Homo sapiens: one gene and its partners. The protein of the gene in region 4 interacts with the protein of the main gene of each other region in a biochemical or structural test. Each region holds a gene or a part of one and is shown on either strand. Other genes may lie near its edges. The genes, in order: TTC24, TECPR2, USH1C, GOPC, NRXN3, RSRC2 and CLCN3.

Region 1 (4,085 bases), on a different chromosome or scaffold from region 4:
GGCCATCCACCCTTAAGCCTTGGGCCCCTTTTGGAACCCCTTCTTAGTGTCTTAGTCCCAGTCCCATTCCCCGGCCCCAGGCACCCACCGTGTAGGTCAGCAGCCTTCTGGTGAAACTCCCGAGCTTCCTGATAGTTGCCGAGGGCATTGTGGGCCATCCCGAGGTTTCTTAGCACTGTGGCCTGCTCTCCTGGCACCCAGCACAGGGGCAGGGCCTGCAGGAAGGCCTCCACGGCCAGCGGGAACAGCTGGAGCTGGGAGTAGCCCAGGCCTAGATCGTTATAGAGGTGCCCTAGAGGGAATAGCCAGGGTCACTGGTAGCCAGACCAGATATAAATGAGGCTGGTACAGCCCCTATCGACTCCTCCAGGGTTCCCCAAACCCAGCCCTCTGAGTATCATCAGGCTCTGTGTCTCCCCAGATCCCATGCCTTCCCTGCCCGAAGGTCTCACCCAGCAGTCGCCTCTCAGTGCTCCTCTCGGCAAGCCTCCGGCTTTTCTCCAGCACCTGCACAACTTCCCCCACCCGATGCCGCCCACTCTTCAGCATACATCCTGCCGCAGCCCCCAGTGCCAGGGCTGCGGCCCGCAGCTGTCTCTCTTGAGCATAGGCCTGGCTTGCTTCCTGCAGGCAGTGGGCTGCTAGCTCAGGCTGTCCCAGAGCCTGGTAGCAGGCTCCCATTTTTGCCCAGGCTTCTCCCTGGTCACCCTGTGGCTGGTAGTGGCCCAGGGCCCTGTGGTACCAGGCCAAAGCTTGAGGCAGCTCGCCGAGGGCATGGTAGGCCAAAGCCACATTGAAACATTGGTCGCCGTGTCGCCTGCCCTGTGCCTTCTCTTCAGGGTGGGCTCGCAGGAGTAGCTCAAGGCCTCTGGCTGGGTCCCCAGTCTCCACATAGGCAGCCCCCAGGTTGAAGGCGCAGGCCTGGAGCACAGGGGTATCCCTGGTTTGTGGGGCCTTGGAGGCCAGAAGGAAGGCCCTCTGGAAGTTGTTCAAGGCTTCATGGTTCTGGCCAGCCTGAAGGGCCCCATGGCCAGCCCTGGTGAGGGCTTGGATGCTGGCTTCTTGCCGCAGCCACTTTCTTTTCTTCTTTTTCTTATTGGAGCTTGAGGGCTCAGGTTCTGGCCTCCGGGGCACATCCTCAGGGTTGGGGGAAGACATAGGGCTGACAAAGGGGAACAGAGGGCTCAGTATGTCAGCCTTGGCTTCCTCTAGATAGCAGGACCCCCTTAGGGCAATTCAGCTCTACCCCTGCCCTAGCATGACCCTCAGGGTTTCAAGGATTGCTCTCTGATCTCTCACTTTGTTTCTTCTGTCCCATTGGGCACCATATCCACTCTCACTCTAACTTCCTGACTAATTCTTAGTCCTCCTTCAAGACTCAAGTCAAGTAACAGCTTACTTCAGAACGCACCTTCTTCTCAACCAACTGGGTACTCCTGTGGTCCCATAGCACTTGATGCCTATGTCTTTTATAGCATTTATCACACTGGGTCAGAGCTGATGACTTTATTGTCTTCCCCCCACTACTAGATTTGGAGCAACTTGCAGGGTCTGGCACACAGTAGATTCTCAATAAATGTTTATGAAAGGAGATGAAAAAGTTCTGGAGATGGATAGTGGTGTTAATTGCACAATAATGTGAGTGTACTTAATGCCACTGAACTGCACATTTTAAAATGGTTAAAATGGTAAATTGTATGTTATGTATATGTTACCACCATACGAGTGTTTTTGGATTGAACAAATAGGCCAGGTGCGATGGCTCACACCAGTAATCCCAGCATTTTGGGAGGCTGAGGTGGGCAGATCACGAGGTCAAGAGATAGAGACCAGCCTGGCCAACATGGTAAAACCCCGTCTCTACTAAAAATACAAAAATTAGCCGGGCGTGGTGGCGGGCGCCTGTAATCCCAGCTACTCGGGAGGCTGAGGCAGGAGAATTGCTTGAACCCGGGAGGTGGAGGTTGCAGTGAGCTGAGATCGCGCCATTGCACTCCAGCCTGGGTGACAGAGAAACTCTGTCTCAAAAAAAGCTGCAAATAAATAGATGAAGGAACCGCATATGCAGGGCCTCTCCTCCATAACTTCCTTCACACTGTGCCTCCACAGACACCCCCCTCACTCATCATCTAGGTACTCCTGCTATCTAATCTCAAGACGTAGTTCAGGTCAGTTCAACAAGCACTCAGTGAGCCCCTGCTATGTGCTAGGAACCACACTAGGCACTGGGGACCCTAGGGTGAGGAGGCTCCTGAATTGGCAAGGAGCGAACCTCCAGGAGAGAAGGATTTTCTGAAAAGGAGTGTGGTGTGGGACAGAACATGCATTTACTGCCCCTTCCCTAGCTCAAGGGGAAGCTCTCTCTCCATTTCTTCCGCTTTCTGTCTGCTGGCTGGTTCTAGGCCCCCAGCCTCCTGCTCTGGTCTCCAGAGCCCTCTTAAACCTGAATACAAGCATCTCAGCAGCTTGTATATCCTGTTTGTATTTTTCCCCTTGAAGGGCAAAAGCTTTTTATGAACTCTCCTCCCAGGAGATGGGAAAAAGAGTGGAAAAGACCCAGGCCCTGGGCTCTTGACCCCTCCCATTTTATCCTTTTTTTCCCCTTTTTTAGGAGGGGCAGGCAGAGGAAAAGCAGTCTCTTTTAAAAGAAATTCCCCCTGCTTCTAAGAACACCCAGAAATCCTGCCTTTTCAAGGCCTTCCACTCCAGGGCATTCCTGACCACCCCCATCCAGTGTGGGGATCCCCACTGCAGGACACCTTACCTCCTTGGGTCTTCTCCGCAGCTGGCTCTCTGGAATGGCCCCTCTGGCTTGGGTTACCTCCCAAGCTGTTAGCTCAAAGCCCTAGAGGTTACTAGACAACCAGGTACCACCCTCCAGTCGTAGGGAATTATTTGAGTGACAGCTCTGAAGCCGTATCTTAGTGCTAAACCTCGGTAGTGCTGCAGACACACCCCCTCAAGTCCCTCACTTCAAGAAATGAATCAAGGCATCAGAGGGGCGCTTACTAGTTACACCCTCAGAAATCATCTACTTCATCCCCTCATTTCACAGAGGAAGGGACCAAGCCTCAGACAGCAGATGTGACTTAACTAAGGTCACAGAGCAGTCACGTAGCTGGGGTTAGACTCTATGTTTTTTTTTGAGATGGAGTCTCACTCTATCACCCAGGCTGGAGTGCAGTGGCGCCATCTCGGCTCACTGCAACCGCTGCCTCCCGGGCTCAAGTGATCAAGTGATTCTCCTGCCTCAGCCTCCTGAGGAGCTGGGATTACAGGTGCACGCCACCACAACCAGCTCATTTTTGTATTTTTAGTAGAGAAGGGGTTTCACCATGTTGGCCAGGCTGGTCTCGAACTCCTGACCTCAAGTGATCTGGCTGCCTTGGCCTCCCAAAGTGCTAGGATTACAGGTGTGAGCCACTGCACCCCGTCTTTTTTTTTTTTTTTTTTTTTTGAGACGGAATCTTGCTGTGTTGCCTAGGCTGGAGTGCAGTGGTGCAATCTCAGCTCACTGCAACCTCTGCCTCCTGGGTTCAAGCCGTTCTCCTGCCTCAGCCTCCTGAGTAGCTGGGATTACAGGTGCCTGCCATCACACCTGGCTAATTTTTGTATTTTTGTATAGACTGGGTTTCCCCATGTTGGCCAGGCTGGTCTTGAACTCCTGACCTCAGGTGATCTGCCTGCCTCTGCCTCCCAAAGTGCTAGGATTACAGGCATGAGCCACCACGCCCAGCCAACTCTAGGTTTTTTGATTCAAGGTGAGTAGCCTAGGGTCCCTTCCACTACACTGTGTGATTGCAAGTTGTTTTTTTTGTTTGTGTGTTTGTTTTTGAGACAGAATCTTGCTCTGTCATCTAGGCTGAAGTGCCTAGATGATCACAGCTCACTGCAGCCTCTACCTCCTGGGCTCAAGCGATCTTCCCACCTCAGCCTCCCAAGTAGCTGGGACCACAGGCATGTGCCACCACACCTGGCTAATAATAATAATAATAATAATTATTATTATTATTATTATTATTATTATTATTATTATAGAGATGGGGTTTTGATATGTTGCCCAGGATGGTCTCAAACTCCTGAGC
Region 2 (4,537 bases), on a different chromosome or scaffold from region 4:
GAAGTTAGATATAGACTGTTTTGTCATAGTGTCTAATTTCCATGCTTGTGTTAGGCTTTAGCTTGTGACCATTGGGTAGCCAATGGGGATGGGAGCAAGGAAGTGACAAAATTTTGTCTGGAAGATAAATGACTGCCTCAGTCTCATTACGTTCCTCCTTAATAATTTAATACTCAAATAATTAATAGATGTCGTAGCCAGATTTCAAACATAGATTCTACAATAGGGATACAAATTGTTGCTTCCTAGGGATTTTGGAGAGAATCCTGAAACCATTAGTGTACCCAGAGCACTCTGATAACATGGTTATTGTACAGCGAAGTGGATGACTTAGACTCTATATTAGTCCTAGCTCCAGTTTGAGAAATCATCCATCTGGGTGGCAGTTGGGTGTTAGTAGTCAGCAGTGAAGGCTAGCTGCCACCTTCCAGGGTTATGAGATTGACAGGGCTAGTGGGGAAAGGAAGCATCGTAACTTGAAGGATGCCATAGGGTGGTGTTTTGTATTTTTTTAACTGAAATAGTCATGACTAAGGAAGCATTATTCATTATATTTTTATTTATTTATTTATTTTTGAGATGAAATATCACTCTGTCACCCAGGCTGGAGTGCAGTGGCACGATCTTGGTTCACTGCAGCCTCCACCTCCCAGGTTCAAGTGATTCTCCTGCCTCAGCCTCCCAAGTAGCTGGGATTACAGGTGTGCGCCACCACACCTGGCTAATTTTTGTATTTTTTAGTAGAGATGGGTTTCGCCATGTTGGCCAGACTGGTCTCGAACTCCTGGCCTCAAGCAATCCTCCCACCTCGGCCTCCCAAAGTGCTGGGATTACAGGCGTGAGCCATCATGCCCAGCCCAATTTTAAAAATTGGATTGAGACTATTGTTTTGCAGTAAGACCTGAAGTTAACAAATCTTTACTGAGCATCTACTCTGTGCCAAAGCTATTATTAGATACTAGGATTTACCTTGGTAAGCAAGAGAGAATTCATGTTGCTTACATTCTTGTAGGAGAGATGATTTTTAAATGGTTTAGCAAATAAAGCAATTAGAGGTTGTAATGAGGATTATGAAGCACATATGATAGAGGAAAGAAGGGACAGTTGGGTACTCTTGAGTGATCTGGTCAGAGAAGGCCTTTCTGTGGTGGTGATATTTAAGCTGAGACCCCACAGTTGAGAAGAAGCCAGATAAATGGAGTGAGATCATTTATTCTGCATAGAGGAAATAATTATGACACCTGAGTGGGACAGAGTGGGTCAGTGGAGCTAGAACTTGGAGGACAAGTGGAGACGGGTAGAGAGGTGACAGGGGAGCTGCAAAGGGCTTAGACCACACGGGGCATTTGGTTTTTATTCTTAGAGCACTGGGCAACCAGTGAGGAGTTTTGAGTAGAATGGGTAGTATGGTCTGATTTCTCTTTGAAGGAGCTGATATTTTCCTTTGTTTTTTGGGGGGTAACAGCTTTATTGAGATATAATTTACATGCCACACAGTTCACCCATTTATATACAATTCAATGGTTTTTACTGTATTCACAGCTATGCAACCGTCACTACGTCAATTTTAGAACTTTCTCATCACCCTAAAAGGAAACTCCGTACCCTTCAGCAATACACCCTAACCCCTTCTTCTCCCAGCCCTGGGCAACCACTGACCTACTCTGCCTACAGCTTGCCTATTCTAGACATTTTGTATACATGGAATCATATAATATATGGTGTTTTGTGCCTGGTTGCTTTCACTTAGCATAATATTCTCAGGATTCCTCCGTGTTGTAGCATGAATCAGTACTTCATTCCTTTTTATTGCTGAACAGGCTTCCATTGTGTGGATAGATCACATTTTGTTTGTCCATTCATCAGTTGATGGACAGTTAGGTTGTTTTGACATTTTGGCTATTATGAGTGGTGATATTATGAACATTTATCTACAAATTCTTTGTAGATATGTTATCATTTCTATTGGGCATAAACCTAGGAATAGAACTTCTGGGTCACATGGTAACTCTGTAACCTTTTGAAGAACTGCCCACTGGTGGCTGCACCATTTTATTTTTCACCAGCAATGTATACAGTTTTTTCCACATCCTTGCTAACACTTGTTCATACCCTAGTGGGTATGAAGTGGTATCTCCTTGTGGTTTCGATTTGCATTTCCCTGATGAGTAATGGTGCTGAACATCTTTTTATGTGCTTATTGGCCTTTTTTTTTTTTTTTTTTTTTTTTTTTTTTGGAAATAAAGTCTCGCTCTGTTGCCCAGGCTGGAGTGCAGTGGTGCGATCTTGGCTCACTACAACCTCCACCTCTCGGGTTCAGGTGATTCTTGTTCCTTCGGCCTCCTGAGTAGCTGGGATTACAGATGTGCGCCACTATGCCCACCTAATTTTTGTGTTTTTGGTAGAGACAGGGTTTCACCATGTTGGCCAGGCTGGTCTTGAACTCCCAACCTCAGGTGATCCACCTGCGTTGGCCTCCCAAAGTGCTGGGATTACAGATGTGAGCCACCGTGCCTGGCCTTACTGGGCATTTGTGTGTCTTCTTTGGAGAAATGTTTCTTAGACTTTGCCCATTGTAAAATTGTCTTTTGTTGTTGTTTTGAGATGAAGTCTTGCTGTGTTGATCAGGCTGGTCTCAAATTCCTGGGTTCAATCGATCTTCCCACCCCAGCCTCCCAAGTAGCTGAGACTATAGCCACGTGCCACTGCACCCAGCTTTTAAAATTGTCTTTTTATTATTGAGTTATAAGAGCTCTTTATATATTCTGGGTAAAATCTCTTTATCAGATATATAACCAGGAGATATTTTCTTCCATTTTGTGGGTTTTTTTTTTTTATTTTTGTCGGTGGTGTGGATTAGATGTATTTTTACTTTCTTGATGGTGCCCTTTGGAGCACAAGCGTTTTTCATTTCAGTGAAGTCAAAGAGCTAATTTTGATGGCTGAATGAGCCTGGCTTCTGGGGGCAGGTGTGGAAGACCATGGCAGCAGTGTAGGCGAGGGATATGATAGCTTGTACTGTGGCATGGCCACAGAGTTGGTGAGGAGGCGCCAGGCTTGAGGGAGGCTTGGAGATAGGGCTGATGGACTGAGTTGAGAGATTGTTGTACGGGTGAGGGAAACAGAGGAATTGAGGGTGAATACTAGGATTTCAGCTTGAACAACACTTTTGATTCAAAATGTGATTATGCTGTTACCTGCCGGACAATTGTGACAGTTTCTAATACCTGCTGGAGCCTAGCAAGGGCAGCCCTGCGCTCCCTCCCTGGGTTCTGAAGTTGCTTTTGGTAGGATTATCACTGAGTGTGCCAAGGAGATGGTCAGGGATTCTGACCTTTTGTAATACCCACTAAGACCTCCTAAGCCACCACAAATAAACATATTATCTGAGTAGAATAGTGCACTTGCTCTGCAAATGCACTTTTGAGGCAAATCTCTTGACTCCCTTCTAGCTAGACTGCAGTCTCAAAGCCCTTCTTGTGTAGAGCCTGCGAGCTGTCAGTGGATAGCATCAAATCAAGCGGATGGATTCTTGAAAGCTAAATGTCATCATTTGACAGAGCTACTATGAGGAAAAATATTTTTATTTTTAAAAAAGTTTTATTGATCGATTGATTTGAGATGGGGTCTTGCTCTGTCACCTAGGCTGGAGTGCAGTGGCTTGATCATGGCTCACTGCAGCCTCGAACTCCCGGGCTCAATGGATCCTCCAGGTTCAGTCGATCCTCCGGGCTCAATTGATTCTTGTGCCTCAGCCTCCTGAGTAGATGGTACTACAGGCACGCACCACCACACCTGGCTACTTTTTTGTATTTTTTGTAGAGACAGAGTTTTGTCATGTTGCCCAGGCTGATGTCAAACCCCTGGGCTCGGCCAAGTGCAGTGGCTCACGCCTGTAATCCCAGCACTTTGGGAGGCCGAGGCGGGTGGATCACAAGATCAGGAGATTGAGACCATCCTGGCTAACACGGTGAAACCCCGTCTCTACTAAAAAAAACAAAAAAACAAAAAAACAAAAAATTAGCCAGGCGTGGTGGCAGGTGCCTGTAGTCCCAGCTACTCAGGAGGCTGAGGCAGAATGGCATGAACCCGGGAGGCGGAGCTTGCAGTGAGCCGAGATCGCATCACTGTACTCCAGCCTGGGCGACAGAGTGAGACTCTGTCTCAAAAAAATAAATAAACAAACAAGCAAACAAACAAACCCTTGGGCTCAAGTGATCTGCCCACCTCAACCTCCCAAAGTACTGGGATTACAGATGTGAGCCACTGTGCCTGGCTGAGGAATAACTTTTTTTTTTTTGAGACAGAGTTTCGCTCTTGTTGCCCAGGCTGGAGTGCAATGGCACAATCTTGGTTCACTGGAACCTCTGCCTCCTGGGTTCAAGCGATTCTCCTGCCTCAGCCTCCTGAGTAGCTGAGATTACGGGCACCTCCCACCATGCCCAGCTAATTTTTGTGTTTTAATAGAGATGAGGTTTCACCAAGTTGGTCATGCTGGTCTCAAACTCCTGACCTCAGGTGATCCACCCACCTCAGG
Region 3 (4,537 bases), on a different chromosome or scaffold from region 4:
GGCGCTCACATGGCCAGATAAGGGAAGGACAGGGGGCGCCGGGACCTTGTGGGGTGGGTTGGAGGGTGGAGGGTGGGGCATCACAGGCAAGGCAGAGGGAGTCTTGGGGGGATAGTAGAACATGTCCAAAGGGATGTCGTCCAGGTCAGTGGTGTGCAGGTGCAGTCCGCCTGCGAAGCGTCTCAAGGGTGGGGCCAGGGGAGACACAGAAGGCGGGGGAGGCGGGGGCCCTGTGGTCATCTGGGGGTGTTGCAAGGAAGTTCTGTAATTGTCACTCTGCTTAGAGCTCCACTTCACAATACAGCGAGCACTATGCTCTTCTAATCTGTTTCTCTTGCTACTGGAGACCCACCACCCTTACATCAGAACCATGGGGCGCCATTCCTCTGCCACCTGGATGCCCAGCTGAGGCCATACTAGGCTGCTGTTAGGGAGTGCCCAAATGCAGAAGAGCCCCAAGTTATGCCATCTGTGGGTGGTAAGGTGTTCACAGAGTTCATTCTCTAAACTGGAATGCCCTTGAGAGTGTAAGGGGGACTCTTAGTCATGATGCCAGGACAACAGGCCTAACTGAGACTATCGCAGATGAGCTGGGACTTAGAGATCACTCTGGGAGTATACCCAGAAATACAGACATATCCCTCCTCCTCAAGAGGGGAGTGGGGTGGTAGGGGTGGGCCTGGACAGTGGATGGGCACTGTGAGGCTAGTGACGTTTGCTAGTTGTCATCTCACCTCCCGCTGTCCCCACAGTGGGTCATTCTGAAGACAGCAGGAGGGTCTATGTGGAAAGAAGGGCTCTGTTACCTCTGAAATCTCATTATCAGCAGAGGAAATCTGCTCGAGGCGCGTTTGACAGAGCCTCTCCACCCAATATTGAATCTTTTCCGATTCTTCAAGGTCTTCCCGCTCTGTCTCAGACACCTGGGACCCAGGATCGGCGCAGAAAGGAGAGGACAAAGGGCACATTTGAATAACATGTGGATAGAAATAGCATGAAAGCACTCCTTTAGAAACTCCAGAGTACTGTGAGGTGCATCAGCTATCTAGAAAGAGACCTGGGCTTGTTCCAACTGGCCCTCAAGGAGGCAGCAGCAAGGGAGAAGAGAGTGGCGGGGTGTCAAATTCACTAAGCAGAACTTGTAGGCAAAATCAGAAAAGGGGCTTATGTATTGTGAGGGATTAGCTGGATCCCAGATCCCCATGAACCCTGAGGCTCTTATGATTTTCCAAGAATGGAGTTTTTGTAGCCTCCCCCAGCACATTCCAAGAGTTTAACTTGACTCTTTTTTTTCCTGCTCCATTCTGCCTTGCCCTCAGAAGCATAAGTTCAATCTTATTTTTAATTTTGTGGCTAATTTGTTCATAATGTCAGACCTAATGCATTTCACATTTTCCAGGACTTCTCTGGTTTTATAATCTAATCAAATTGGCATTCTGATTCATGGATGCGTTAAAGAGAAGCAGAAACAATGATACCTCCTACAGCTGGGGAGTTAAGGTTACCCATCTCACCTAGCATAGGAATTATTCATGGTGTAAGGTTGCTTTGGACATGTCTTCATGGGGACAGCCTCAGATATATTCCCAGGTTGATGAGGTCTAGCCTTAGACACACCCTATGTTGAGGGGAGCAGCCTTAGACTGATAGCCTGATTAATTGGGAGATAACCTCGCACCTACCACCTGCATAAGGGGGTTAGCCTCAGACCCATATTCTCAGAGCCAAGCTAAGTTGGGTGGGGGGGGGTCTGGTCTTACAATAACCTGGGAAGGGAGGCCAGAGTGATTCAGACTCGTAGACAGGTCAGTGGAAGCCTAACTTCAAAGCTACAAGCAAGGCAGAAGGGTTAGCCGCAGACCATACTCTAAGTAGCCTCAGAGCCACACCTGAGATGGAGAGGCCCAGCCTTAGACTCTGGTGGGGTAGAGTGAAGAGGACAGACTCAAATCTCTAAGCCAGGTGTATCAAAGGCTAACCTGAGACCTACCATCTGGTCAGAAAGGCTAACCTCAGACTCACACCCCCCGACCAAGGAGGCTAGTTTCAATTCCAAAGCCAGGAGCAAGACTCACACCCCCAAGCAAGGAGATTAGTTTCAATTCCTAAGCCAGGAGCTAACCTCAGATGGCCCTGGGCAGGTGGCATGATCTCTCTCTCCAGGCTGGGGAGCAGGAAAGGGCTCACTCCACCCTTGTATGCCATTTGAGGAGAACAACTCCAGCTGGTCCTCTGGGAGCACATGGAGAACGACCACATTGTGTCCCAGGGTTGCTTGCCTGGCCTGCAGGCAGGACACATACCTCCTGGGCCAGCCGGTTGATCTTTAGCTGCTTTTCCTTCTCCAGCATTTCCTCTTTCTCTTTGTAAAGCTTTTGCTCAAACTCCAGTTCTTTCTTATTCTTTCTCAAGTCCTGCAGGCTGCCATACTTGGCTTTCTTCTTATCTTTTCCTTTCTGAGTAGATGTGGCATTGTTTATATGACAAAGGTTAGAAATAGTGTCGACAGCACAGCACACGGGGCATCCAGTCCTCACATAACACAACCATCCCATGGTGAGCCCCTCCCCCAGCTCTCTCACCACTCTGGACATCAGACCTCAGGTTTAGGACAGGAAGGCCACTGCTACCTACTGCAGAGTGGGAGACACATTCTCTTTACCAGCCAGAAAGACTGGCTTATTAGTTCACTAACTAGCTGTGTGGCCTTGGCTAAGTTCCTTAACCTCTCTGGGCCTGATTTGCCTCATCTCCAAAATGGTAAAAATACCTCCCCCACAGGCTTGCCACCCAGTGCCAATGAAATAACATCCATGAAAGAACTTTGTAAAAGTTCTGTATAAATAAAAAATAAAATAAAAAAATAAATAAGTGCCATATAAATAAAGGGCATTGTGCTGATTTTCCAGTATCTGGCACATGCCTTCTGCATCATCTCATGTTCAGATTCAGAGATGCATCCTGGGAGATTCCAGAGAAAATCTGGGAGGGCTGGCAAGCTTCATCTGTAGAGGTCCCGTCCTAAGCTAGAAGTGATAGGAGTCACACTGAGACCTGGGGGCTCAGACCCAGGGACATCAGATTTTACCCGCATGCTTAAGCTCTGGACCATTTCACCCTGGAGAGTCTAGACCCACAGTTTCCTCTGAATTGTGCCCCTCTACCGAGGGCTAGCTGGAAACTGCAGGACTGGGAGGCAGGGCATGGAGAGAATGGCTTAACTGCTTTACACTCACCATCAGGGTTCTAGAGGATTTGGGGAGGGACATGAAAGGCAAATAGACTCCTTATTTTTCCTGTAGGAATTAGACCCACCGAGCCTGCATTCCTGGCTGCTTCTCTCATGGGGTTGCAGGGAAGCCAGGGGCTAAGGCAGGAAGAGAATGATCATTTATGAACTGCCTATGTGCCAAGGGATTTATACCAATGATCTCCTATGTAGGTTTATCCTCATTCTTTGATGAAGGAGCTGAGGCTCAGAGAGGTAAAGTCCCTTGTTCAATGTCAGACATCTTGTAACTGATAGTACCAGGATTTGGACCTGAGTCTTCGAGGTCCTAGTTTTTCTATGGTGCCCTGATGAGCTGGGGGCAAGGGAAACACGGCAGGAGGGAGGGTCAGCCCCTATCACACACAGCGTGGAGGACAGAGCGAGCATTCAGGAGAGGGGCAGCAGAGACAGCCCACACCCTGGGCAATTTCTGGGGCAAGGAGGAAACCCCCTGTTCACTGAGCTCACCCCCGCCCCCAACAAGCCTTCTGGGGATCTGCTCTTGAATTTTCTGAATCATCTTAGTATCCAAGGCCAGGAATAAGGAATTGAGCTCCCTAGCAATGGACACACAACATTCATCCACAGCTGGAGGGACTTGGTGGGCCATTATGGACCTCTGAGGGACTCTTCCTAGCTCCTCTCCTAAAGACACACACCTCTGTGTACTGCTAATGTGCTCTGGAAATGGTCACCTCTGGGACCCACCTCCAGAGCAGTGTATGAGCCTCTCGAGAAAATGGTTCTCACTGCTTCAGAGTCCTGCTTGGTTCCTTGCCTACCTTGTTCACTAGACTCAGTTGATAGATGAATCCCTGCCATCGTAGTAGAGATTCAGACAGCAATTTCCCAAGAGGAGCCAGAAACACTGCCTAATGGTAGCTTGCTAGAGTAAGAGCCTGGCCTCCTCCAGGACCACCACGAGAATAATGGCCATTCTGTTGCTTAAAAAAAGAAAGAAAGAAAGAAAAAAAAAACTACCAGTGCTAAGATTATAGAGTCAGGGCTTCTGGGTGGGGTAGTAGACAGTTTCTGTCTCATGCCCAAGAAAGTCATATCTGTACAGATGCAGAGGGCAAGTTGCCCCATGGCATTTCCCACTGATCTCAGACTGGCCCCACACAGGTTACTTAGCTGTGTGTGAATCTGCCTTCCCTGCCAGACGGTGGGCTCCTGCAAGTAGGGCTGGTCTGTGTGAGTGACTCAAGCAATTCTGATGAAAGGGCTTAGTCAGAATCATGAATCCTTCATGCCCTGGCACAAATT
Region 4 (3,409 bases):
CAATGTAATCCTAAGGGAGTTTGGCAAGACCATCGTGGAGTGCTCCAGCTAAAGTTGAGGAGTCATCATATAATATCCCTGTCATAATCAGTCACTGACTGGCAGCAGCATGGAGGAGCATAGCCTCACCATGTACACAGGGATGGATTTCAGACCACAGCAGCTGGACCTTCAGTAAGCTATGCTCCCTCCTGCACGAGAACTGACAGATGCATTCTCATGGCTGCTGCCGTGGTGATTATAGCTCTCAAATCACACCTGAAAAAGGTTCATTATTGAACAAATATTCAGCACCAACAGTGCACGGTAATTTGCAATACTTTTAAAGTGTTTCTTTAAGGTTAGTTATAAAACCACCTAAAATAAAATACTGATTAACAATGAAAATACAAGTTCTCTTTAAAATTTCATAAACTGACCAAAAAAAAATTCATAAATTGACCAATATCCTATGGGGTTGTATTCTGGGGAAAAGACTTCTTTTCAAATCACTTGGTGAATTGGGAGCTTAAATCAACACACGGAAAGCATATATGTATTAGCACTAAATCAAGGTTAGTCAGTGACAAAAATGTATTTCTAATGTTCATAACATTTCTAAATGTTCATAACTCAAGTAATTCATTTACAAGTATTTTCCAAAAATTATTTTACATATAACTTAGGAACTTCTAAATCATATATACTTAGATGTCAAAATGGAAGAATACCCTTTTAAATAGTATCTTAAAAACAGGATTGATTTTCTAACTTTCATCAATGTTTTCCTCATAGATAACAACAGCTGGCAATATTTATAACACAAAATTAAGCCAAGTCCTTTGCACAGACTTTATGACATGTTGGTACAAATAATAGAACTACTAGAAATAAATAACAAGCCAAAATATTTAACGTCAAGGAAACAAAATGTTTATTTAAAAAAATGAGATCAATATCATTTTAATGTAGAAGATGCCATCTTTATTTACAGGCTAATAAAAAAATATTAAACTCAACTAGATATAATACATTATCATAAATGCAATAGATTTGAGGCCAACCATAAGTGTAAGACTGGATAGATGGAATAGGGATTACATAATCAGGATGTCAAATACTGTGCATCTTACACATGAATCACATGAAACCTTTTTGTTTCTAAACATGAAAACAGCATAAGTCCACTGCAGTGGGGAAAAAAACAGCACCACAGACAAGCTGTGCTAACTTTCGATAGCTGTTGACTTGTAATTATCAAGACTCACAAAATTTTCGTCTTTCTCAAATTTATTTTAACAATAGTCTCACCACCAAAATGTTGCTTTTCCATCATATTCATAACAGAGATACTGTAGAAGAGAATTTTAGAGGTTAAGTGTAAATATATACACGCACACATACAACCCTCACATTTTATTAAAACGTTTTCTCAACCATTCTGTTTGTGTATACATGTGTGTATTTCTCCTTCTGTCCCCTTCTCGATGAAATGGCTTTGCAACAGTTCCCTCCTTACTTGTTTGGTTTTGTCCTAGAAGTTTCAGGGACATATGAATTTCTTTCCTATAAATGTGAAAATATTAAAATTGGTTCTCAGTCCTTTGGAACTAATAACTAATTCTTAGTTCATCCCCAAAAACCATACATTCTAAAATGAACTTTTAACTAGTTACTTTCTAACACCGGACAGGAAGCTCACAGTAGCATCTGAGCAACGGTGCTCTCCCGTAGGCTTATAAACCACAGTGAAGCAGGAATGAAAAGGAAACTGACCTGTGGAGTTTTAAACTACCTGGAAACTTTTCATTCTATTTATCAGTCCTTAAAAGGAATTTATATCATGACAATCTCACACAATTCTTCAAATTACACAGTGACCTCATAAAAATTCCAACTTGAAGTTTTAAAAAACCACCTCTTCATACACTTATTCGGTAGTTCTTGAAAATCAAAGGGTTATAGCTTACATTTCCTAAGGATTCAGTCATAGCAGATAAAGGATGTTCTCTGAAAAAAATGCCATGGCCATTCCATCCCAGGCTGTGTTTTAAGAAGATAAGAATAACATGGTTTCATGTCACAGCAAAAAGGTTTTCGGGTCTGCTACAATGGACAATTTTTTTGACTAAATAAATACGGTGGCTAAAATCCAGTTTGCAGATCTCATGTCATGCATGGAAGGTATGTGTTTGGCATAGGGGATTCATAAAGAAAAAACAAGTTGTTTTTTTTCTTTTAAGAGGCCTACCCTGTCAAGAGCAAACAATAACATGTAACTTGCTTATTCATTTGTACAATTAAATACTAGCTTTTGCTCAGAGACAATGCTATAAAGTATTTTAATGTCAGTAACAATATACACTACGAAGTGCACTTCCATTACAAATTAACATGGTGATATACAGATGAACACCACCACCCAAAACAAACCATAAATGAGCAACAGTTAAAACATTAAATTTATAAATAGCAAAACCACAAAATAAAGTATATACATTTTATAGATTTACCCTTGAACAAATATATAGTGTATCTGGGAAAGCCAAAAAAAATGTGTTTTATCACATAACATCTGAATACCAGAAATGAAGATACTGATAATATTCTAAAAGCCTTGTAGGCTTTCTCCCACTTAATATTCCTTTAACTGTACGTCCTTTAAAACAGTGATATTAGCAAAGCTATCACCTCTTTAATGCAATGTTGTGACTTTGCCTAGCAGGTTACAATGACCTGCAGAATATTAAATCAGAGAGGAGGCACTCCATGTTTAATCATGGGACAACAGACCTAACAAATTTATAAACCTGCATATGAAGAGAGCTTTAGTCAAACATAAACTGACATGAAAACCCAACCAAAACAATTACTGTATCAAAATGTCTTTATCTCATCTTGCCCACCTTTTAGATGACTGGAAATCATTTACTTAGAAAGAAAACTGCCGTTTGATTTGAATGTACTGTGTTTCATGACATAGTAATAAATCTGAACTTTTACTACCAGAAAAATTTGTCTTTAAGTGCCAGGACTATCACAAGACAAACTTTATGAACAACTCAAAATGTATAAAACTGTCTTTTGTGGACCCCAGAAAACAAGCATTTGAGGCTCAACATGAATGGGTAAATGCTCCAGTACTGCGCACACAGATCAACATAATTGAGAACAGATGTTTTACACTCATCTGCATTTCTTTTAAAAAACAAAAAAAGTAAAATGTTTAGTAACTTTTGAGAATCTATTTCTAGTGCAGCATTGATTGATAAAAGACTGCTTAAAGAAAACTATTTTGTACTGCATTGAATAAAGCTGAAATGCAAACTCATTACAATAAATGATCATTAATAATTGGTTTAGATTTTAGGATGCACAATAAATTTTTTTAAGTCTAAAGCCTTTCAGTTACAAAAATTAAGTCAAGCCT
Region 5 (4,537 bases), on a different chromosome or scaffold from region 4:
CTAAATCAATGTCCTTGACTGACTGGCTGAAATAGGGCTTCAGGGTGTCTCATTCTACCACTGTACAGAGGGCACATGCAATGTGCAAAAAATAAAAACAAAAACAGACCTCTGTCCCCACCAGCTTTTAACACTTACTCTTTTCTTTCAAGTAATATATCCACATGGTTGAAAAAAAGTCTAACACTGTAAGAGGGCACAGTGAAAAGTAAGTCACCCTCCCACTCCAGAATATTAATCCCGCAAATATACTCCCCAATGACAATTTTATAGTTCCAAAGAGACTTTATGCTTACTGGAGCATATATACATATAATGCCCCCACGCCCCCACACTTTTACACAATGATAACATAATGCACCCTCTATCCTGTTCCTTGACAATTTCACTTAACAATGTGACCTGGAGAGCTTCCACATCAAAACCAAAAGCAATACCTTGTTTGCAAGGCCTGCCTAATATTCCATTATAACGCTGTGCCATCTGCTATTGATGGTCATTTAGGTTGTTTCTGGTATTTTACTAAGGGTGCTTCAGTAAATCACTTTGTATGAAGTATGTGAATCCATGCAACTCGATCTCTCTTGATTTTTATTTGCAAGCTTATGTTGTATAACTTTCTGACAACACAAGAAATTGGCCAGGAGACAAAAGAAATTCTGTAGAAATATAGAGGCTTTTTTGGAGCTTGTGTGCACATCAGATGTTTCTTCAGATACCTTTTTGGTTCCTGTGTCTCATTGTTTCTCATGTTGTTTTGGGCTATGTCCTGAAGCCTCTTTTTGGGTCATTTTTCCAGGTGCCCAGTGAGTGATGGATGGATACTGTTTGCAAGATTGATTCACATGGCACTTTTGTTTGGCTTTTGACAGGTTGTTTATAAGAATAATGACATCCGTCTGGAGCTGTCTCGCCTGGCCCGGATTGCGGACACCAAGATGAAAATCTATGGCGAAGTTGTGTTTAAGTGTGAGAATGTGGCCACACTGGACCCCATCAACTTTGAGACCCCAGAGGCTTACATCAGCTTGCCCAAGTGGAACACTAAACGTATGGGCTCCATCTCCTTTGACTTCCGCACCACAGAGCCCAATGGCCTGATCCTCTTCACTCATGGAAAGCCCCAAGAGAGGAAGGATGCTCGGAGCCAGAAGAATACAAAAGTAGACTTCTTTGCCGTGGAACTCCTCGATGGCAACCTGTACTTGCTGCTTGACATGGGCTCTGGCACCATCAAAGTGAAAGCCACTCAGAAGAAAGCCAATGATGGGGAATGGTACCATGTGGACATTCAGCGAGATGGCAGATCAGGTAGGAAGAGGCAGGATGTGTGACTGAGACTAGACGAAAGCTGTAGCTTCTCAGTTTGTTTTTTGGCTTTATGTTTCTTAATTTTCACCCTTGCATGCTTGTTGATTCTTTTGCTACTCTCTTTAATGGCTGTTGTAAAATTATGTTTCTGAAAAGATACCTGTCTCATAGATGGCTCACATTCTCCGCTTATCTCTCTTGTCACTCACTGCGCAATTGTCTCAGTGATAGCTCTACGATCCTGGAGCTAAGGATGGTTTTACAAGTAGCATTTCCACTGCTACCAGAGCAACTCTCATGTCACTGGTGTGATCCGCCCCCATTGCCCCATTCTTTGCTTCTCTTTTTCCTCATCACCATGGAAACCGATTGTGACATCACAGATGCTGCATTATGTGATTATTTTGTAGGATAAACTTCACTGTGCAAGAATTTATGCAACAATACACCCTTCAGTAATTGGCAAGAGTCATGTTGCATGGAGAAATTATGACAAGAAAGGAAAAGGCAAATTGATTTTTCCTGAAGATACATTCAATTTAAAGCCTTCCTTTGGTGTAAAAGCCTATATTTCACTCTTTGTTCAGACCTCACTAACTCTCTCTTCCTCTTCATAACCTTTTACATTTTGTTTAAATGGCTTTGTTTCTGCAGCTGCAGATCAAACAAGCTAGCCCCAGGCAGTACATAGCTACTATGGAATAGTAACAAAGTGGGGGTGGGGGTGGGGCAAAATAGTCAGGGGTTTTTGAATGCCTGGACAGTCTGCCTAGCTTTCTATGGACCATGTGGCAATGAAGGTCACATTCTGTGCTATCAGAAAGGGCATTTTCCCAAGAGCAGTAATTAGAGCATTTGCCATTTCAGACTCATTTCCTGATTCTCCATTTAGGTAGGATGTACTCAAGAAGGGTCTTGGCTTCATGTGCCATATTTATAGAGATTCACTTTCCTGATGAACATTAAAAAGTCTCTATTTGGATATTTTCTTTCTAGGTACATTTGGCCAGTAAGAGAGAGCAATAAGTTCCCCAAAAGGCTGAAACTGGGAGTGACTGAGCTTTGGTGGGTTGGCTTTTCTGCATAATTCCAAAGCTAGGCTGACGGCAGAGATAGCAATATTGCCCTTAGGAAGAGCTGGATGGGTTCTTTGCAGAGGGCAGATGGGTGGCAGATTGCAGCCCTGGCTATTTTATTGCCCAGTAGGAATCTTTACTGGTTGTCTGAAATCTGATCAGAACCAAGAGCCTTCAAATTAAATGTGCTCGTTAAGCAAGAATGAATAGTGTCTACCCTTTTACACAGAAAAACACCCAAAAAATTAATTTCTTTGGAGGCTAAATCCCGCCACACCCCCCATACTTCTTCTTCTTCTTTTCTTTCTCCTTCTCTGCTTTTCAGTAAAATGACAGCAAGAGCAGAGTCAGAAAGCTGTTCCAGAATTATAAAGAAAACACTGCTGTTGGTTTTTAAGAGCATGTGTTTGGGATCTCTGAGGTTAGGTCACGGTGGACGGGTTTTGTGTCTGACTAACCTAGACCTTGGCACAGCATAAAAGTTACCTTACCCGTGTCTCAGGCAGGCTAAAACACACAAAATTGCCATTTGTTCATTTCTGTCTGTTCCTAATACAAATTTTTCTTTCAAACAATTTTGAACAAAGGGGAACAGTTTTTGTTGTTTAAACCACCAGTGGACCCAACTTCAACAAATATGTTTGAATTTCAGAAGTCTTAAATTTCATACCTGGGAGCTAAAGCACTGGCTAATTCTTTTCTCTTTTTTTTTTTTTTTTTTTTTTTTGAGACAGAGTTTCTCTCTTGCTGCCCAGGCTGGAGTGCAATGGCGCAGTCTCGGCTCACTGCAAACTCTACCTTCCAGGTTCAAGTGATTCTCCTGCCTTACCTCCCAAGTAGCTGGGATTACAGGCACCCTCCACCAAGCCCAGCTAATTTTTGTCTATTTAGTAGAGACAGGGTTTCACCATGTTGGCCAGGCCAATCTCGAACTCCTGACCTCAGATGATCAACCCATCTCGGCCTCCCAAAGTGCTGGGATTACAGGAGTAAGCCACTGTGCCAGGCCTGGCCAGTTTTTTGAACTACTGATGAATTTGATCAAAGCCTATTAAAAACTTACTGAGTAAACAAACAATTGTCCCATGAAAGCAGTATAATCTAAAATTTTAATACAGTCTGTTAAACTTTCATTTTTTCATGAGAATGTTTTCTGGTAACTTGTTTTAGATTATAAATCTATACTAAAGGATAGTTATAAAAACAAGTGTATCTAAATGTGGTGCCTCCTTCCCTGATAATCTTGAAGAATAATATAACAAACAGTGATCTAGAAAAACTTTTATGATCACTCCTCACTTGGGCAAGTCAGTCTTAGAACTTGTTAAGTGCATTCAAAACTGTTATGGTCACACATTCAGAGAACAGATTTTCCTCAGGTTGTATTTAAGGCTCTAAAATTTAAATTGATTCTAGTATTGTCTTTACTTGGCAATAGATGTCTCCCCATTTTAGTTGGTGATCAGATTAGCCCTGTGGACCTGTGAGGGGTAAAGAAAGAAAACTATGCAACAGAGAAAATAGTAAGAGATAGAGACCTCAACTTCCTCCTTTGTAAGATAGAGAAAATAATAACTCCTACCTCCCAATATTGTTTTGAGGATCAAGTCCAAAAATGCACATAAAATAGTTAAAATGGTAGCCAGGACATTATTGTTGTTATATAAGTGTTTGAAAGATTGAAAAACAAAAGGCAAAGCATATTTCTCTAGGAGTAAACTTCTAGGAGGGAGTAGTGAAGCAGATTGTTAAATTCCCCTTAATATCCTTTCTATGCTTCTACTCTTGTGTTGACTTTGCACTTTATTTATTGTTTTTAACTTTAGTTAATTAATTAATTAAATTTCTTGAGAGCTAGTCTCACTCTGCCACCCAGCTTGGAGTGCAGTGGCACGATCTCAGCTCTCTGCAATCCCCACCTCCCGGGTCCAAGGAATTCTCCTGCCTCAACCTCTCGAGTAGCTGGGATTACAGGTGCCTGCCACCACACCTGGCTAATTTTTGTATTTTTAGTAAAGATGGGGTTTCACCATGTTGGCCAGGTTGGTCTTGAACTCCTGACCTCAAGTGATCTGCCCGCCTCAGCCTCCCAAAGTGCTGGGATTACAGGCGTGAGCCACCACACCCAGCCGACTTTGTACTTTAAAGTG
Region 6 (4,528 bases), on a different chromosome or scaffold from region 4:
AGCTGGGATTAGAGGCACATGCCACCACGCCCAGCTAATTTTTGTATTTTCAGTAGAGACGGGGTTTCACCACATTGGTCAGGCTGGTCTCGAACTCCTGACCTCAGGGATCCCCCCTGCCGCCTGCCCCCCGGCCTCCCGAAGTGTTGGGATTACAGGTGTGAACTAGGCTGACACTATTAAATTATACTTTTGGCCGGGTGCAGTGTGGCTCACGCCTGTAATCCCAGCACTTTGGGAGGCTGAGACGGGTGGATCACCTGAGGTCAGGATTTCGAGACTAGCCTGGCCAACATGGTGAAACCCCGTCTATACTAAAAACAAAAAACAAACAAACAAAAATATACTTTTGGGATATGTATTTGATCTCAATAACTTAATTTCCATTCATTATTGAACACCTCCAAAGGACAAGGCAATGTTCTTTCTAGGTCTGGAATATAGCAGGGTGTAACAAAAGTTAACTTCAGTTTAGTAGGTTGGAAAAAACATAATATGTAGAAGATGTCAGGGTATAAATGCCACAGAGGAAAGTAAAGTAGAAAATGGGGATGGAGGCTGGGCGCAGTGGCTCAGAACTGTGATCCAGGGCTTTGAGAGGCCGAGGTGGAAGGACTGCTTGAGCCTCGAAGTTTAAGGCTGCAGTGAGGTATGACTGCACCACTGTACTCCAGCCCAAGTGACAGAGCAAGCAGAGCAAAACCCCGTCTCTCTCTCTCTCTCCAAGTGTGTGTGTAGGGAGGACAGTGGGTAGGGGAGATGGAAATGTTTCAGAATGGGATTGCTTGTTATTTCACAAAAGGTGGTGGGAAAGAACTCAAAAACGCTGACACCTGAGTAAAGACCAGAACTAAGAAAATGAGGGAAGAACAGTGCAGGAGGGCTAATAGCTAATACAAAGATCCCCTGGCACATGTGAAACTCACCTTAATACCCATCAATTTCCTAAATTTGACATTTTGGTCCTTGTTTCCAAAATTCAATTTTTCCCATATTTCAGCAGATTGGGATTTGTCCTGTTAACAAACACTGAACTTTAAAATATGTAAAATTTAAATATTTTTTAGGACATGAAATCTCTCAACAATGTCTAAATTAAAAAAAAAAACACCATGGATAGCATTCAATCAATGTAAGTTTAATTATTTCAAGACTTAAGAAACCACAAAGCAAAGAAATACAAGCAAGAGGTTGGCGCCGTGCTTCACTCCTATAATCCCAGCACTTTGGAAGGCCGAGGTGGGCAAATCACCTGAGGTCAGGGGATCGAGACTAGCCTGGATGACTAGGTGAAACCCCGTCTCTACTAAAAATACAAAAAACTAGCCTGGCATGGTGGTGGGCACCTGTAGACCCAGGAGGGTCTCAGGAGTCTGAGGCAGGAGAATTGCTTGAACCTGGGAGGCAGAGGTTGCAGTGAGCTGAGATCACACCACTGCATTCCAGCCTGGGTGACAAGAGCAAGACTCTGTCTCAAAAATAATAAAAATAAAATAAAAAAATGGATTATTTTCCTGTCATAGACCTTTTTCAACATGCAATTTTTGCGACTGCATGTCATTTGCATTTAATGTCATTTGTCATTGCAAATAATGTCAAAAAAAAAAAAGTACCTCATAATCTATGAAAAATTCTAAACCAAGTAGCCTCTTTTCCTTACTACTTCTATGGTAATATTAGTTTTCTTTGAAAGCTTGACTTCAATCAATTATGTTTTATTTTAGTATTAATAACTGGCAAATAAGACTATCATAGCTTATTATAAGTTTTTTGAGACAGGGTCTCACCCAGGCTGAAGTGCAGTGGCGTGATTTTTTTTTTTTTTTTCCAGATGGAGTTTCGCTGGAAACTCACTGCAACCTCCGCCTCCCAGGATCAAGTGATTCTCCTGTTTCAGCCTCCCAAGTAGCTGGGATTACAGGTGCCCACCACCATGCCTGGCTAAGTGGCATGATCTTGGCTCACTGTATGTAGGCTCTGCATCCCAGGCTCAAGCGATTCTCCTGCCTCAGCCTCCCAAGCACCTGGGATTACAGGTGTGTGCCACCACACCCAGCTGATTTTTATCTTCTTTTCAGTAGAGACAGGGTTTTGCCATGTTGGCCAGGCTGGTCTTGGACTCCTTACCTCAACTGATCCGCTCACTTGGCATCCCAAAGTGCTGGGATTAAAGGCATAAGCCACCCGCGTCTGGCCACCCCAGGTTCTTACAAAGTTAAGCCGAAAGTAATATTTTTCAACCCAAATTTGTTTTTCTAAGCAATTACTAATTAGGAATAAACGACAGAAAAGCAGAATAAGAGAACTTACCCCTTCTTTCTTGCCCTGCCAAAGCATTTTCCTTTTTTTCTCTTGTTCAGCAAATTTCATTGGATTAACAGCGGCTGGGTTATAGTAGCTAGGAACAGCTATTCCTGTCTCTGCCAAAGCTTTAGCTTGCAGGGCTGCCATCTGAGCTGCCATGGCTATCTGAGGTGTTACTTGTGTTCCTGATGCCAACAGGGCAGCAACATTGAGAACAGAACCTCCAGTAGCTGCAGCTGCTTGAAGAGAATACAAAAATGGATTTTAAAACGATTTTAAAACATAAACCTCCTGATTTACATTAACGAACGATTTATAAAAAGCTATGAATGTGCAAAAAGGCAGGATTTTCACCAAATCCAAGGAAATGACTGAGTATTAGCTCACAAGTTTTTAGCAAACATTTATTGTGTTCATCAACGGACATATTTCTACATAAACCCTTGATATATAAACCATTTATTGCAAGGCGCAGTGGCTCACGCCTGTAATCCCAGCACTTTGGGAGGCTGAGGTGGGCGGATCACCTGAGGTTGGGAGTTCGAGACCAGCCTGACCAACATGGAGAAACCCCGTCTCTACCAAAAATACAAAATTAGCCGGGCGTGGTGGTACATGCCCGTAATCTCAGCTACTCGGGAGGCTGACGCAGGAGAATCACTTGAACCCAAAAGGCGAAGGTTGCAGTGAGTCGAGATCATGCCACTGCACTCCAGCCTGGGCAACAAGAGCGAAACTCCGTATCAAAACAAAAAAAAAACCCATTTATTTACTTTGAGGATAGAGAATTCTGCAAATAGTAAGAAAGTATGATTTCAGTGGAGATGAACTATAGTGTTTCTAAGGTATAATTACAAAACAATAAAACCTTGTATTTTTTTAAATTTATGAAATGTTCTCATGGACATTTCATTTGATGCTCACATCATATACTTGAAAAACAGTATGCAGCTAAGGCTGGGCGCAGTGGCTCACGTCTGTAATCCCAGCACTTTAGGAGGCCAAGACAGGCGGATCACAAGGTCAGGAGTTCGAGACCAGCCTGGCCAACATAGTGAAACCCCGTCTCAAATAAAAACTACAAAAAAATTAGCCAGGCGTGGTGGCAGGCGCCTATAAGCCCAGGTACTCAGGAGGCTGAGGCAGGAGAATCACTTGAACCCGAGAGGTGGAGGTTGTTGTGAGTCAGGATTGTGCCACTGTACTCCAGCACAGGCGACAGTATGAGCCTCCGTCTCAAAAAAAAAAACAAAAACAAAAACAAAAAAAAACCCAAAAACAACAACAGTATGCAGGTATTATGCTAAGTCCAAGTTCAATAAAGCCCTGGTATTTCCACTGTGATTGAGCAGTCCTCTGTAAAAAAAGACACCTCTGATTACCTATTTTTGTCAGTCCAGAATATAACCTTAAAAAGTACTTAAATTACCAACATTATGGGAACCAGAGTTACCAAAGAGAGTAATGATGTAGTAAAAATAAAATGGCTATTTGTAAACTTTTAGAGTTTCAAATAAGTGCCACTGTTTACCAAAAATGTAAAAAACAACAAAAAACCATCTTCCAGATTAAATTTCATACCAAATCAACAGTAAGCTCTTCGTGATAATTTTTTGTTTTTTGTTTTTGTTTTTTTCTTTTTCGTGAGACAGGGTCTCACTCTGTCACCCAGGCTAGAGTGCAATGGCGTGATGTTGGCTCACTGCAACCTCTACCTCCCGAGTTCAAGCCTCCTGAGTAGCTGGGACTATAGGCACACACAACCACGCCTGGCTAATTTTTGTATTTTTAGCAGAGATGGGGTTTTGCCATGTTGGCCAGGCTGGTCTTGAACTACTGACCTCAGGTGACCCACCTGCCTTGGCCTCCCAAAGTGCTGGGATTACAGAAGTGAGTCACTGAGCCAGGCCTGATAATTTTTGAAATCTGCAATGTTTGTTACGCATAAAAACTTGATTTCTTGAAAGAGAAATACATATTTCAGATCAGTTCACTTTCTTGCATAAACTACATTTCCAAAATCGTAAAAGACATCTGGGGCCGGGCGTGGTGGCTCATGCCTGTAATCCCAGCACTTCGGGAGGCCAAGAAGGACGATCACCAGGTCAAGAGATCGACACCATCCTGGTTCAACACGGTGAAACCCCGTCTCTACTAAAAATACAAAAATTAGCTAGATGTGGTGGTGCACACCTGTAGTCCCAGCTACAGGGGAGGCTGAGGC
Region 7 (4,537 bases), on a different chromosome or scaffold from region 4:
AGCAATGCCATTACTGGGTATATACCCAAAAGAAAATAAATTGTTCTACATAAAAGACACATGTGCTTATATGTTCATCACAGCACTACCCACAATAGCAAAAACACAGAATCAACCTAGGTGCTCATCAATAGTGGACTGGATAAAGAAAATATGGTACAGGCTGGGTGCGGTGGCTCACGCCTGTAATCCCAGCACTTTGGGAGGCCAAGGCTGGCGGATCACCTGAGGTCAGAAGTTCAAGACCAACCTGGCCAACATGGTGAAACCCTGTACTAAAAAAATACAAAAATTAGCCGGGAGTGATGGCAGGTGTCTGTAATTCCAGCTACTCGGGAGGCTGAGGCAGGAGAATTGCTTGAACCTAGAAGGCAGAGTTTGCAGTGAGCCAAGATCGTGCCACTGCACTCCAGCCTGGGCGACAGAACAAGACTCTGTCTCAAAAAAAAATAAAAATAAAAAAAGGAAAGAAAAGAAAATATGGTACATATACACCATGGAACACTACACAGCCATAAAAAGAATAAAATCAAGTCCTTTGCAGCAATGGGGATGCTGCTGGAGACCATTATCCTAAGTGAATTAACACAGTAACAGAAAACCAAATACAGCATGTTCTCATTTTAAGTGGGAGCTTTAACATCAGGTACTCACAGATGTACAGATGGCAACAATAGTCACTGAGGACTACCAGCGCGGGCAATGTAGGGAAGGAAGCAAGGGCTGAAAAACTGTTGAGCACTATACCCACTTCCTGGGTAATGGGTACAACTGTACCCCAAACCGCAGCATCATGCTGTATACCCATGGAATAAACCTGCACATCTAAAATAAAAGTTGAAATTGTAAAAATAAAAAAGAATTAACTCTCCTACTCATTTTTCTTACAAGGTCTTACATCAAGTATCCCTTTATTTAACAAACTCTTAACCAGAGCTTACTATATGCTAGGCAATATCTTAAGCCCTTTACAAATTCATTCATTTAATATTCATATTAAATATATGACAACCTTAAAGAATAGGTGCTATTATTGTCCCCACTAAAAATGAGGAACTGAGGCACAAAGCATGTAAATAACTCGCCCAAAGTCATGCAGTTAGTAAGCAAAGCTTCGCTGACCCACTTACTATCTGGATCAAATTTTCTCATTATTAGTTCTTATAGCTCTCTTTTACAGCACTTACCACAGTTGAATATTAAATTTATTTCTGTGATTATTTAATATCTGTCTGCCATTGTAGAACGTGTCATGAGGTCTGACACTCAATTTTTGCTCAACACTGTATACTCAATGGTTAGCAAAATATGTCACATTAGACCAGGCGCAGTGGCTCACAGCTGTAATCTCGGCACTTTAAGAGGCCCAGGAGGGCAGATCACCTGAGGTCAGGAGTTCAAGACCAGCATGGCCAACATGGTGAAACCCCGTCTCTACTAAAAATACAAAAATTAGCCGGGCATAGTGGTGAGTGCCTGTAATCCCAGCTACTCAGGAGGCCGAGGCAGAAGAATCACTTGAGCCCAGGAGGCAGAGGTTGCAGTGAGCTGAGATCACACCACTCACTGCACTCCAGCCTGGGCAACTGAGCAAGATCTGCCTCAAAAAAAAAAAATGTGTCACAGTAGATGTTCAATTTTTTTAATTAAATTTTTATTTTGAGATAATTGTGGTTCCACATGTAGTTACAATAAATAATACAGAAAAAAATCCTGTATATCTTTTACCCAGTTTCCATTAATGGGAACATCTCGCAAAACTATAGTACAATATCACAATCAAGATAAGGACATTGATACAGTCAAGATACAGAATATTCCATCACCACAGGTATCTCTCATGTTGCCGTTTTATGGCCATCCCTCCTTAACCCCTAGCAACCCATAGTCTGTTTTCTACTTCAATAATTTTGCCAGTTCAAGAATGTTATATAAATGATATGATATGGGGATTAACTCTTTGTTCTCAGCACAATTCTCTGGAGATTCATCCAGGGTGTTACATGTGTCAATAGTTCCTTCCTTTTTATCAGAGTAGTCTATGATAACAGATATGCCACAGTTTGTTTAACCATTCACCCACTGAAGAACATCTGGCTTGTTTCTATGTTTTGGTGACTATGAATAAAGCTGCTACAAACATGCATGTACAGGTTTTTGAAAATGAATAGCCTTTATTTCTTTGGGCTAAATGTCAGAGTACAATAGTTGGGTCATACAGTAGTCACATATTTGTTTTTTAAAGAAACTGCCAAATTGTTTTCCAGAGTGGCTGTACCATTGTACATTTCTACCAACAATGTATGAGTGATCCAGTTTCTTGACCTCGTTGCCAGCATTTGGTGTTGTCACTATTTCTTATTTTAGCTATTCTGATAGATGTACGGTAGTATCTTGTTGCTTTAATCTGCATCTCCCTAATGGGTAATGATGCTGAACATTTTTTATGTGCTCATTTGCTATATGTGTAATCCTCTTCAGTGAAATGACTATGTCTTTTGTCCGTTTTCTAGCTGGACTGCTTTCATACTGTTGACTTTTAAGAGTTCTTTATATATTACAGATACTAGTTATTTGTCAGTTGTGTTGTCTGCAAATATTTTCTCCCCTCTCTAGTTTATCTTTTCATCTTTTTAACAGGGTCTATAACAGAGCAAAAATACTTAATTTTGATGAAGTTTAATTTATCAATTTTGCCTTTAAGGAGTATTCTTTTGGTGGCAAGTCAAAGAAACATATGCCTAACCCTACCTCCCCAAAATTTTCTTCTATTTTTCCTAAAATTTTATAGTTTAATATTTTTATATTTCAGTCTGTGATCCATTTTAATTTGTGCATGCACAGGGTATGAGACATAGGTTGAGGTTCCTTTATTGGGGGGTTGGGAATGGGACAGTGTATGGATGTCTAATTGCTCCAGTACCAACTGTTGAAAAAGTTATCTACCTCCGTTGAACTGTTTTCATGCTTTTGACAAAAACTAGGTATATTTATGTGGATCTATTTCAGAGTTCTCTGTTCTGTTCCACGGATCTGTGTCTTTATCTATGCCCATACCACACAGTCTTGATTACTGTAACTACATAATAAGTCTTGAAATTGAGTAGATTGATCTTTCACACCTTATTCTTCTTTTTCATTGCCTTTTCATGTAAATTTTAGAATAATCTTGTCCATATCTAAAAAAAATCTTGTTGGGTTAATTATATTGTATGAATAAATAACAAATGTATAAGAAATAAATGGTACATGTCTTCCTTGATGTTGTAAAAGAGCTAAAACTCAACAAGACCTAAACTAAATAAATATTTGCCCCAAAAGTCCTTGTCCTCCTACTTTTCCTATCTCAGTTTACAGGATCACCATTTATCTAGTATTCAAAGCTAGTTTTTGGAGTCATTTATTAATTTATTTGATAATCATTGACTGCACACTTAGCATGTACCAGGCACAAAGCCAGATGCTAGGGTAATGAATAAGATATGGTTTCTGTTCCTAAGGCAGTGAAGGTGACAGACATCAACAAGTAACAACAATATGGTATGATACACATCACAGGAGAGGTACATACAATGTATTTGATAAACCTGAGAAAAGTAAGCAAGCTGGCTGGCACACAGTCCGTAAGCACTTAATAGAGGGAATATTTTAGCAAAATATTGAAGAATTAGGATAAATTAATTGGGCTGTGAGGTAAAAAGTCAATACAGGCACACACACAAAAAAAGTATGCGCAACAGCATAAAAGCATCATAGTAAAACCTGCTTGGGTAGCTTATGTAAGAGGTAAAGGACCAGAGAGTAGCTACAGAGGCAGACATAGGCCAGATCATGAAGGGGAGGGGTTCATGTGTCACACTAAGAAACTTACATACTCATCTATACACAGGGGAAACCATGAAGAACTTTAGAGAAATCACATGATCAGACATGAATTTTAGTAAGCCAACACTAGCAGCAGTGTGAAAGCCAGATAAGAAGGGTAAGAGACTGAAGGACTACAGATAGAGAAGCTGGAGATGAGACTAGACGTCTGAACAATTCTAAACGTAAGATAGGGCATAACTGAATTAAGAGTGATATGATATATATTGGTTTTCATCCATGGTTCCTGGTTTATAAGTCCCACAGCTCTTATTACATTCTTTTTTAATATTAAATTTAATTTTATATAAGTAGAGACAGGATTTCACTATGTTGGCCAGGCTGGTCTCGAACTCCTGGCCTCAAGTGATCCGCCCACATCGGCCTTCCAAAGTGATGGGATTACAGAGGTAAGCCACTGTGCCTGGCCTTACTACAGTCTTTTGTATAATGTTGGGGCACATTAAACCTCAGAAAACAGAATCTCTTCTCTTGCTGACCTTTTCCTGCCCTCCTTTCCACCAACCCAAGGCAGAACTCTAATCTTCCACAGCCTGTCTGACTGTGGGTCATAAGACCTTCCCTTTAGAAGGGAGCTTGCCCCAGACCCTGGAAGAAGGAATGCTGCAGACAGGCAGAAGAAGTTGGACAGGCAGGCCTTGCTGGGTTTCCC

Evidence for each region.
Region 1: the proteins of GOPC (region 4) and TTC24 interact in a test that uses a peptide from one of them, tested with the Homo sapiens proteins (one large-scale study listed by IntAct).
Region 2: the proteins of GOPC (region 4) and TECPR2 interact in a test that uses a peptide from one of them, tested with the Homo sapiens proteins (one large-scale study listed by IntAct).
Region 3: the proteins of GOPC (region 4) and USH1C interact in a test that uses a peptide from one of them, tested with the Homo sapiens proteins (one large-scale study listed by IntAct).
Region 5: the proteins of GOPC (region 4) and NRXN3 interact in a test that uses a peptide from one of them, tested with the Homo sapiens proteins (one large-scale study listed by IntAct).
Region 6: the proteins of GOPC (region 4) and RSRC2 interact in a test that uses a peptide from one of them, tested with the Homo sapiens proteins (one large-scale study listed by IntAct).
Region 7: the proteins of GOPC (region 4) and CLCN3 form a complex in vitro, tested with the Homo sapiens proteins (one study listed by BioGRID).

What each region holds. Positions count from the first base shown.
Region 1 is NC_000001.11:156,578,438-156,582,522, reverse strand, and holds the start of TTC24 (tetratricopeptide repeat protein 24), read right to left. Parts: upstream 2,801-4,085; 5' UTR 2,765-2,800; intron 1,163-2,764; 5' UTR 1,159-1,162; coding exon 453-1,158; intron 293-452; coding exon 89-292; intron 1-88.
Region 2 is NC_000014.9:102,365,789-102,370,325, forward strand, and holds part of TECPR2 (tectonin beta-propeller repeat-containing protein 2), read left to right. Parts: intron 1-3,955; exon of another isoform or gene 3,956-3,987; intron 3,988-4,537. UniProt on the Homo sapiens protein: Probably plays a role as positive regulator of autophagy.
Region 3 is NC_000011.10:17,509,599-17,514,135, forward strand, and holds part of USH1C (harmonin), read right to left. Parts: intron 2,457-4,537; coding exon 2,304-2,456; intron 924-2,303; coding exon 807-923; intron 241-806; coding exon 1-240. UniProt on the Homo sapiens protein: Anchoring/scaffolding protein that is a part of the functional network formed by USH1C, USH1G, CDH23 and MYO7A that mediates mechanotransduction in cochlear hair cells. Required for normal development and maintenance of cochlear hair cell bundles.
Region 4 is NC_000006.12:117,559,380-117,562,788, forward strand, and holds the end of GOPC (Golgi-associated PDZ and coiled-coil motif-containing protein), read right to left. Parts: 3' UTR 890-3,409; downstream 1-889.
Region 5 is NC_000014.9:78,708,345-78,712,881, forward strand, and holds part of NRXN3 (neurexin 3), read left to right. Parts: intron 1-437; exon of another isoform or gene 438-872; coding exon 873-1,311; exon of another isoform or gene 1,312-1,616; intron 1,617-4,537. UniProt on the Homo sapiens protein: Neuronal cell surface protein that may be involved in cell recognition and cell adhesion. May mediate intracellular signaling. Functions as part of a trans-synaptic complex by binding to cerebellins and postsynaptic GRID1.
Region 6 is NC_000012.12:122,505,908-122,510,435, forward strand, and holds part of RSRC2 (arginine/serine-rich coiled-coil protein 2), read right to left. Parts: intron 2,544-4,528; coding exon of another isoform or gene 2,541-2,543; coding exon 2,311-2,540; intron 1,017-2,310; coding exon 927-1,016; intron 1-926.
Region 7 is NC_000004.12:169,626,453-169,630,989, reverse strand, and holds part of CLCN3 (H(+)/Cl(-) exchange transporter 3), read right to left. Parts: intron 1-4,537.